Homo sapiens: one gene and its partner. The protein of the gene in region 1 purifies or fractionates together with the protein of each later gene. This does not show direct contact. Each region holds a gene or a part of one and is shown in the gene's direction. Other genes may lie near its edges. The genes, in order: POTEH and MME.

What was found.
Region 2: the proteins of POTEH (region 1) and MME purify together in Homo sapiens (co-immunoprecipitation; one large-scale study listed by IntAct). This does not show direct contact.

Annotation. Positions count from the first base shown.
Region 1 is NC_000022.11:15,688,378-15,692,297, forward strand, and holds the start of POTEH (POTE ankyrin domain family member H), read left to right. Parts: upstream 1-1,648; 5' UTR 1,649-1,700; coding exon 1,701-2,332; intron 2,333-3,920.
Region 2 is NC_000003.12:155,086,660-155,090,479, forward strand, and holds part of MME (neprilysin), read left to right. Parts: intron 1-3,174; coding exon of another isoform or gene 3,175-3,221; exon of another isoform or gene 3,222-3,820. UniProt on the Homo sapiens protein: Thermolysin-like specificity, but is almost confined on acting on polypeptides of up to 30 amino acids. Biologically important in the destruction of opioid peptides such as Met- and Leu-enkephalins by cleavage of a Gly-Phe bond.

The DNA of each region.
Region 1 (3,920 bases):
GCATCTCCCCATCAGTGGTAGGTGCTCCTCCAAGCCCCCTCTTGCTGGCCTGGACACAGCGGCCTGCACCTTGACCCTATTGCATGCCAGTGGAGCAGAGCCCCCCAGGCCAGAAGCCCCACAGATGTTGGCCCTGGCTTGGACAGGCAGGGGGCACCGGGGCAGGAGCTGGCTGCGATCCTGTGGCCCCAAATGCCCCCTCGCTGATGGCCTCGTGTTCTGGGTGTGGAGCAAGGAGGAGCAGGTATCGAAGGCACCTCAGGCAGGTGCTGGGCTCGGTGGGCGTCTTGTGCTCCATGATTTTTTTTTTCAAATTTTATTATTATTATACTTTAAGTTTTAGGGTACATGTGCATAACGTGCAGGTTTGTTACATATGTATACATGTGCCATGTTGGTGTGCTGCACCCATTAACTCGTCATTTAGCATTAGGTATATCTCCTAATGCTATCCCTCCCCCCTCCCCCCACACAACAGTCCCCGGTGTGTGATGTTCCCCTTCCTGTGTCCGTGTGTTCTCGTTCCATTCCCACCTGTGAGTGAGAACATGCTCCGTGATTTTGAGGCCATTTGCAGCCAGCTCCGCCAGCCGGTGCTCTGAGCTGCAGCAGCGGCCATGCACAACAGCACCACCAGGAGTGTCCTGGGGGCTTTCTTCAGAGGAGGCTGTCAGCATCCTCAAGTTCCAGCCACTTAGCCCCAGTCCTGCTTCAAGAAGCTTTTTCTTTCACCAGAGGCTTCTCAATGGCCTGAAAGCTCGGCTGACTCCCAGGAAGTTTGCCGGGAACACCAGGCTGTCAGTGACATTTGTGGTTCCAAGACTTATGCAGGTTGCACGCATCCGCAACTGTCTGTGCCACGTGTACTGACACCACCAGAGATGCGCACGCCGCACGCGCACGCCGCACGCGCACGCCGCACGCGCACGCCGCACGCGCACGCCGCACGCGCACGCCGCACGCGCACGCCGCACGCGCACGCCGCACGCGCGGCAGTGGCTTGGCTGGCTTGTAACGGCTTGCACGTGCATGCCGCGCGCGCACGCCACACGCGTGGCAGTGGCTTGGCTGGCTTGTAAGGGCTTGCACGTGCATGCCGTGCGCGCACGCCGGACGCGTATAACGGTTTGGCTGGCCTGTAACTGCTTGCACGCGCATGCCGCACGTGCGTAATGGCTTGGCTGGCCTGTAATGGCTTGCACGCGCATGCTGCACGCGCGTTAACGGCTTGGCTGGTCTGTAACAGTCGGCATGCGCACACTGCACGTGCGTAACGGCTTGGCTGGCCTGTAGCGCTTGGCTTGGCTTTGCGTTCTTTGCTTGGCTTGGCATTTGTCGCTTGGATTGACATTTCTTCCTTGGACTGACGTTTTTTCTGTCACGTTACTTTGCTGGACTTGACCTTTTCTCTTCTGGGTTTGGCATTCCCTTGGGTGGGCCGGGTGTTTTCTTGGGGGGTGGGGTTGGCCCTTCCTGGGGTGGGCGTGGGGTCGCCCAGCGTGGGTGTGGGCTTTCCCCAGGTGGGTGTGGGTTTTCCCTGGGTGGGGTGGGCTGGGCTCCCCTGCTGGGGTTGGCAGGTTTTGGTCGGGACTTTTCTCTTCAAACAGATTAGAAACCCGGAGTTATCTGCCAGTTGGTGAAACTGGTTGGTAGACGCGATCTGCTGGCTACTACCGGCCTTCCCTGGCTGTTAAAAGCAGATGGTGGCTGAGGCTGGTTCAATGCCGGCTGCCTCCTCTGTGAAGAAGCCATTTGGTCTCAGAAGCAAGATGGGCAAGTGGTGCCGCCACTGCTTCGCCTGGTGCAGGGGGAGCGGCAAGAGCAACGTGGGCACTTCTGGAGACCACGACGATTCTGCTATGAAGACACTCAGGAGCAAGATGGGCAAGTGGTGCTGCCACTGCTTCCCCTGGTGCAGGGGGAGCGGCAAGAGCAACGTGGGCACTTCTGGAGACCACGACGATTCTGCTATGAAGACACTCAGGAGCAAGATGGGCAAGTGGTGCTGCCACTGCTTCCCCTGCTGCAGGGGGAGCGGCAAGAGCAACGTGGGCACTTCTGGAGACCACGACGACTCTGCTATGAAGACACTCAGGAGCAAGATGGGCAAGTGGTGCTGCCACTGCTTCCCCTGCTGCAGGGGGAGCGGCAAGAACAAAGTGGGCCCTTGGGGAGACTACGACGACAGCGCTTTCATGGAGCCGAGGTACCACGTCCGTCGAGAAGATCTGGACAAGCTCCACAGAGCTGCCTGGTGGGGTAAAGTCCCCAGAAAGGATCTCATCGTCATGCTCAAGGACACTGACATGAACAAGAAGGACAAGCAAAAGAGGTAACCAGGCCTGGGCTGGGAGGAGGTGGGATGTGGGAGGATGATGGGGACATACCCTCCTGGCCGGGGAGGAGGGGAGCCTGGTTTTCTTGCCTCCACAGGCCTCACACCACCCTGGATGTGGAAACCTCAGAGAGTTCAGGGCACAGGCCCCTTTATGAGCAGCAACACAAAAACAAAACTTTAGCTGATTTCCAATCAAATCATAATTTCCTTCCTAGAACACGAATAGACTGTTTTGAAGTGATTTAACTCGCAACGTTGTCGATGCAGCAGATTATTTTTAATGTACAGATTTTAAAACAATGTTCTATACATTAAAAAAGTGTATATTGAGAACTAAGAATGAAGCCCCATAACACATCAACTTCAGGGCTAAATATTCTTCAAATAAAATCCAGTATGGATTTTATATCAATGTACACTATGTAAATATGTTCTTTACTGAGTAATCTTAGAAGGAAACTGAAATGGGAAGATGGTTCTTGTGCTTGAATAGGAAGATTGAATTTTCTGAAGATGTGAGCTTTTTGGCTGGGCGTGGTGGCTCACACCTGTAATCCCAGCACTTTGGGAGGCTGAGGAGGGCAGATCATGGGGTCAGGAGATCGAGACCATCCTTGCTAACACGGTGAAACCCCGTCTCTACTAAAAAATATAAAAAAAATTAGCTGGACGCGGTGGCAGGCACCTGTAGTCCCAGCTACTCAGGAGGCTGAGGCAGGAGAATGGCGTGAACCTGGGAGGCGGAGCTTGCAGTGAGCCGAGATCACGCCACTGTAGTAGAGCCTGGGAGACAGAGCAAGACTCCGTCTCAAAAAAAAAAAAAAAAAAAAGTGAGCTTTTTCTATTTATCACTTTTACTTAAGCCAAATAAAAATAGCAGTTTTAGAGTTTTTAAATTACACATGCTGTCTTTTATTATTGTGCTAAGTTAATTTTTTTGTAGCAGAATGGACAAAGGCTTGCTTTTCCAGATGTCAAAATGTGCATGTTATTTATTTCCACAAATTGTTTACTAACAGCTGAAAAGACATCAATGAATAAAACAGAACAGGAAATTTAGAAATACCGAAATATATGTAGGAATTTAGCGCTTGATAATGGTGATGTTTTGTATTATTTAAAAAAGATGGATTGTTCATAATTCATTTTTGGAGAAAACTAGCTAGATGTTTATATCACAAAAATCAGAGTATAGATTAAAAATTTTAAATATACAAAAAGAGAAACATACCAGAAGAAAACACAAGTGCCTATTTACATATGCAGATACATATATATATATATATATATATAAATTTCTTTTTTTTTTTGATGGAGTCTCACTCTGTTGCCCAGGCTGGAGTGCAGTGGTGCGATCTCAGCTCACTGCAACCTCTGCCTCATAGGTTCAAGCAATTCTCTGCTTCAGCCTACTGAGTAGCTGGGATTACAGGCGCCTGCCACCACACCTGGCTAATTGTTTTGTATTTTTAGTAGAGATGGGGTTTCACCATCTTGGCCAGGCTGGTCTTGAACTCCTGTCCTCGTGATCCACCCACCTTGGCCTCCCAAAGTGCTGTGGTTACAGGCGTGAGCCACCATG
Region 2 (3,820 bases), on another chromosome or scaffold:
GAGGGCAGCACCTGGGATATGAACACAATATTTGTGTCCTTTAACAAGAGATTCTAAACCTCCTTTCTAACATCTATGTGTCTTATAAGAAATAAATAAACTGTTCCAAATAATTTTAACCATTTTCTGCTGGATATTTTTAATTTTATTTATTTATTTATTTGAGGCAGGATCTTGCTCTGTCACCCAGGCTGGAGTGCAGTATTGTGATCACAGCTTACTGCAGCCTTGATCTCCTGGGCTCAAGGCATCCTCCTGCCTGAGCCTCCTGAGTAGCTGGGACTATAGGCACCTGCCACCATTCCTGGCTAGGTTGTGGGTTTTTTGTTTTTTTTGTTTTTTTTTGTTTTTTTTTTTTGTAGAGACAGGGTCTCACTATGTTGCCCAAGCTTGGTCTTGAACTCCTGAGATCAAGCAGTCCTCCTACTTGTCTTCCCAAAGTGCTGGGATTACAGGCATGAGCCACTGCACCCAGTCTTGGATATTCTTTACTTGGATTTTTGTTATTCACTGAACTTTGCAAAAAAATGACGGGAAAATATCTGGCAATTCTAGGTTATAGTCTAATATCCTGAATCTGTGCCCTTTGGTTTTTTTTTTTTTTTGTATCGTTTTTTGATGGATTTTTTTGCTCTGGGTCACAAGAGCAATGACTAGACACCCTGAGATGTGATGTGGGGAGCGTGAGGGAGACTTGATTTAGATGTTAGCCATTTGCTGCTCGACATAGTAAGTTTTTCCCAAAAACGAAGTTTCTTTATTCCCCAGGGAAATGGCTGCACAGGTACCTTGGCTGGGGGATCTCCGTGGTCATGTGCAAAAGTCAGCATGTGCCCAAGTTGTCAAAGTTAACGTTTACTTCCTCCCCAGATCCTCCTATGCTTCCTCTCTCTACCAGCTACCCTATTATATGCTCAGGCTGTCCTGTTTCGGGAAACTTCCACTTACATATTGACTACTAAGGGTTAATTCCTCTGTCTTTAATACACTTGACATGTCTCTTTGGTATCTTAATCTATAGATTCTCTCTTCTCTCACTATTTTTCCTTTTTCTCTTCTTTTCCTTGAATTTTATTTTCGAAGAAACTGGATTTTTTGACTAGGTAGGTGTATTTCTATAAACGACAAGTGATTTTGCCTCAGAGATCTAGGCAGGTTTTTCCTCCCAAGGAGCAATGTGACATTCAGAATCTGGAATCTTAAATGTGACTTAATGTTTAGAGATAGGATTTTTAAATAGTGTTTGGCAAGTCTCAACTCACTAAAATGTATTTAACCTGTATCCTTTAATTGTAGCTTAGAAATCAAACCAAATGTAAAACACCTTGCAGGATGTATCTTGGCAGAGAAATGTATACAATAGAAATAACTTCAGTGGTAAACAAGGTTGCTGTATAGCTGTATATTTTTCTTCATTCTGCTCTGTTGGTTCACAAGCCATTAGAATACTTGTTCACATTGGTAGTTACTATTCTTCCTAGGAGAATAAATAAGATGACACACACCCTCATGGATACACTCTGCATACTCATAAACACACACACTCGTGCGCGCACACACACACACACACACAGTCTTCTGCTGGTTAGGAAATCTTTTCTGCCACAGAAAAATACAACTATTTCTTTTAGAAGTTGTTGCAAATTAGGAAAACCCTAGAGGAAATCTTGGACAAAAGCAAGTATTAAAGAAGAGTGGCCAGAGTAGAGTAGATGGAAAGAAAAAGAAATGTGAAAAGAGAAGGCTGGGCACGGTGGCTCACGCCTGTAATCCCAGCACTTTGGGAGGCTGAGGCGGGCAGATCACCTGAGGTCGAGAGTTCAAGACCAGCCTGACCAACATGGAGAAAACCCATCTCTACTAAAAATACAAAATTAGCCGGGTGTGGTGGCGCATGCCTGTAATTCCAGCTACTCAGGAGGCTGAGGCAGGAGAATTGCTTGAACCCAGGAGGTGGAGGTTGCAGTGAGCTGAGATTGCGCCATTGCACTACAGCCTGGGCAACAAGACTGAAACTCCATCTCAAAAAAAAAAAAAAAAGAAAAGAAAGAAATATGAAAAGAGAGATGTTGAAAAAATATAAAATATCTTACCAGCAAGTCTATAGGTCACTTTAAGAGAGTGGGTGGGTTCAAACCTGAGCTCAGAAATTCTTGAGAATGGGAAAAGCAAGTATTGACACTCAGGGTGCTTACATTATATGAAAGATGGCCCCAACTTGAACCTTTCTTCCAGTGGAAGGGAATGTCATAGCAAATGTACTTATCTTTGATTCTTTGAAGTCAAGGAATACAGAAGTCAAGCCATACCAAGACAGAAGTAAAATATTGCAGAAGGCTGTTTCAAATCTGTTTGGTGTTACATATTTAAAATCTGAGCATCTAGGATTTAAATATTTATGATGTACATAAAATGATGTTTATGTATACTTTAAATTAACTTGCCTATATGTGTAATGCATCAGTATGAAAGATTACACCAGACCTAAAGTAAAACAAATACCACTTAAGAAATAACAACTTAAGGCAGGGATCAAAATGCTTCAAAGTATTATTCATCGCTTATTTACCCTATAAGGTCATCAAAAACTTAGAGTTATAAAACTTGTATGTGATTTTGCAGACTTTTCCGTGTAAGTCTGAATCCTGAAACTGATTTCCATTGCATTGTAACCTCCCTAACTTAGATTTCAAGGAATCTTGTGCTTTAAATCAGGGTTTCTCAACTCAATCACTATTGATATTTTTGTGCTAGATAATTCTTCGTTGTGGATGCTATTCTGTGTATTATAGGATATTTAGTAGCATCCCTGGCCTCTACCAACTAGATGTCCAGTAGCAGTCCTCTCCTAGTTGTGACAACCAAAAAATGTCTCTAGCCATTACTAAATGTCCCCTGCAGGCAGCACGGTCACTTATGACTGGGTACCACTGGTTTAAACGGTCTCAAGATGTTATCAATGCTTCCCTCTTAACGGTAGGCAGGATAATGGCCTCTCAAAGATATTCACACCCAATTCCCAGAGCCTCTGAATATGTTGCCTTATATGGCAACATGCCTGTAATCCCAGCACTTTGGGAGGCCAAGGCGGGTGGATCACTTGAGGTCGGGAGTTGAAGACCAGCCTGGCCTACATGGTGAAACCCCATCTCTGCTAAAAATACAAAAATCCAGGCATGGTAGCACGCGCCTATAATCCCAGAGGGAGGAGAATTGCTTGAACCCAGGAGGCAGAGGTTGAAGCGAGCCAAGATTGCACGACTGCACTCCAGCCTGGAAGACAGCGCAAGACTCTATCTCCAAAAAAAAGAAAAAGACAACAGAGAATTGAGGGGTCTGCAGAAGCATATGTTAGAAGTGTGGTCCTAAATTATCCAGAGGCCAGAGAAGCCAAGCTAAGACGTGATCAATACAGTTTACAAGAGAAAGTGGGACCACCTCCACCTGTATAGTCATGCAGGTTGTACACTGCATATTTGTCGATGGCAGCCTTGACAGACAGGCTTGTGGAACATCAAGACCTGGATGAAACACCTCTCAGAACTGTCCACTCCTTTTATTTTAATTCTGCACATACCAAGAAAACTTTTGATGATTACTTAATTATTAATACAAGGAGAGGTGGCATTCTGTTACTTGAAAGATATTTTCATCATGGTGAGATAATGCACAGCGGTCCCCTTCTTATCCTCTGAGGATCCCCCAAGACCTCAGTGGATGTCTGACACTGGACTGAACCCTATATATGCTATATTTTTTCTGTATACATACCTATGATAAAGTTTAATTTATAAATTAGACAAAGATTAATAACAATAAT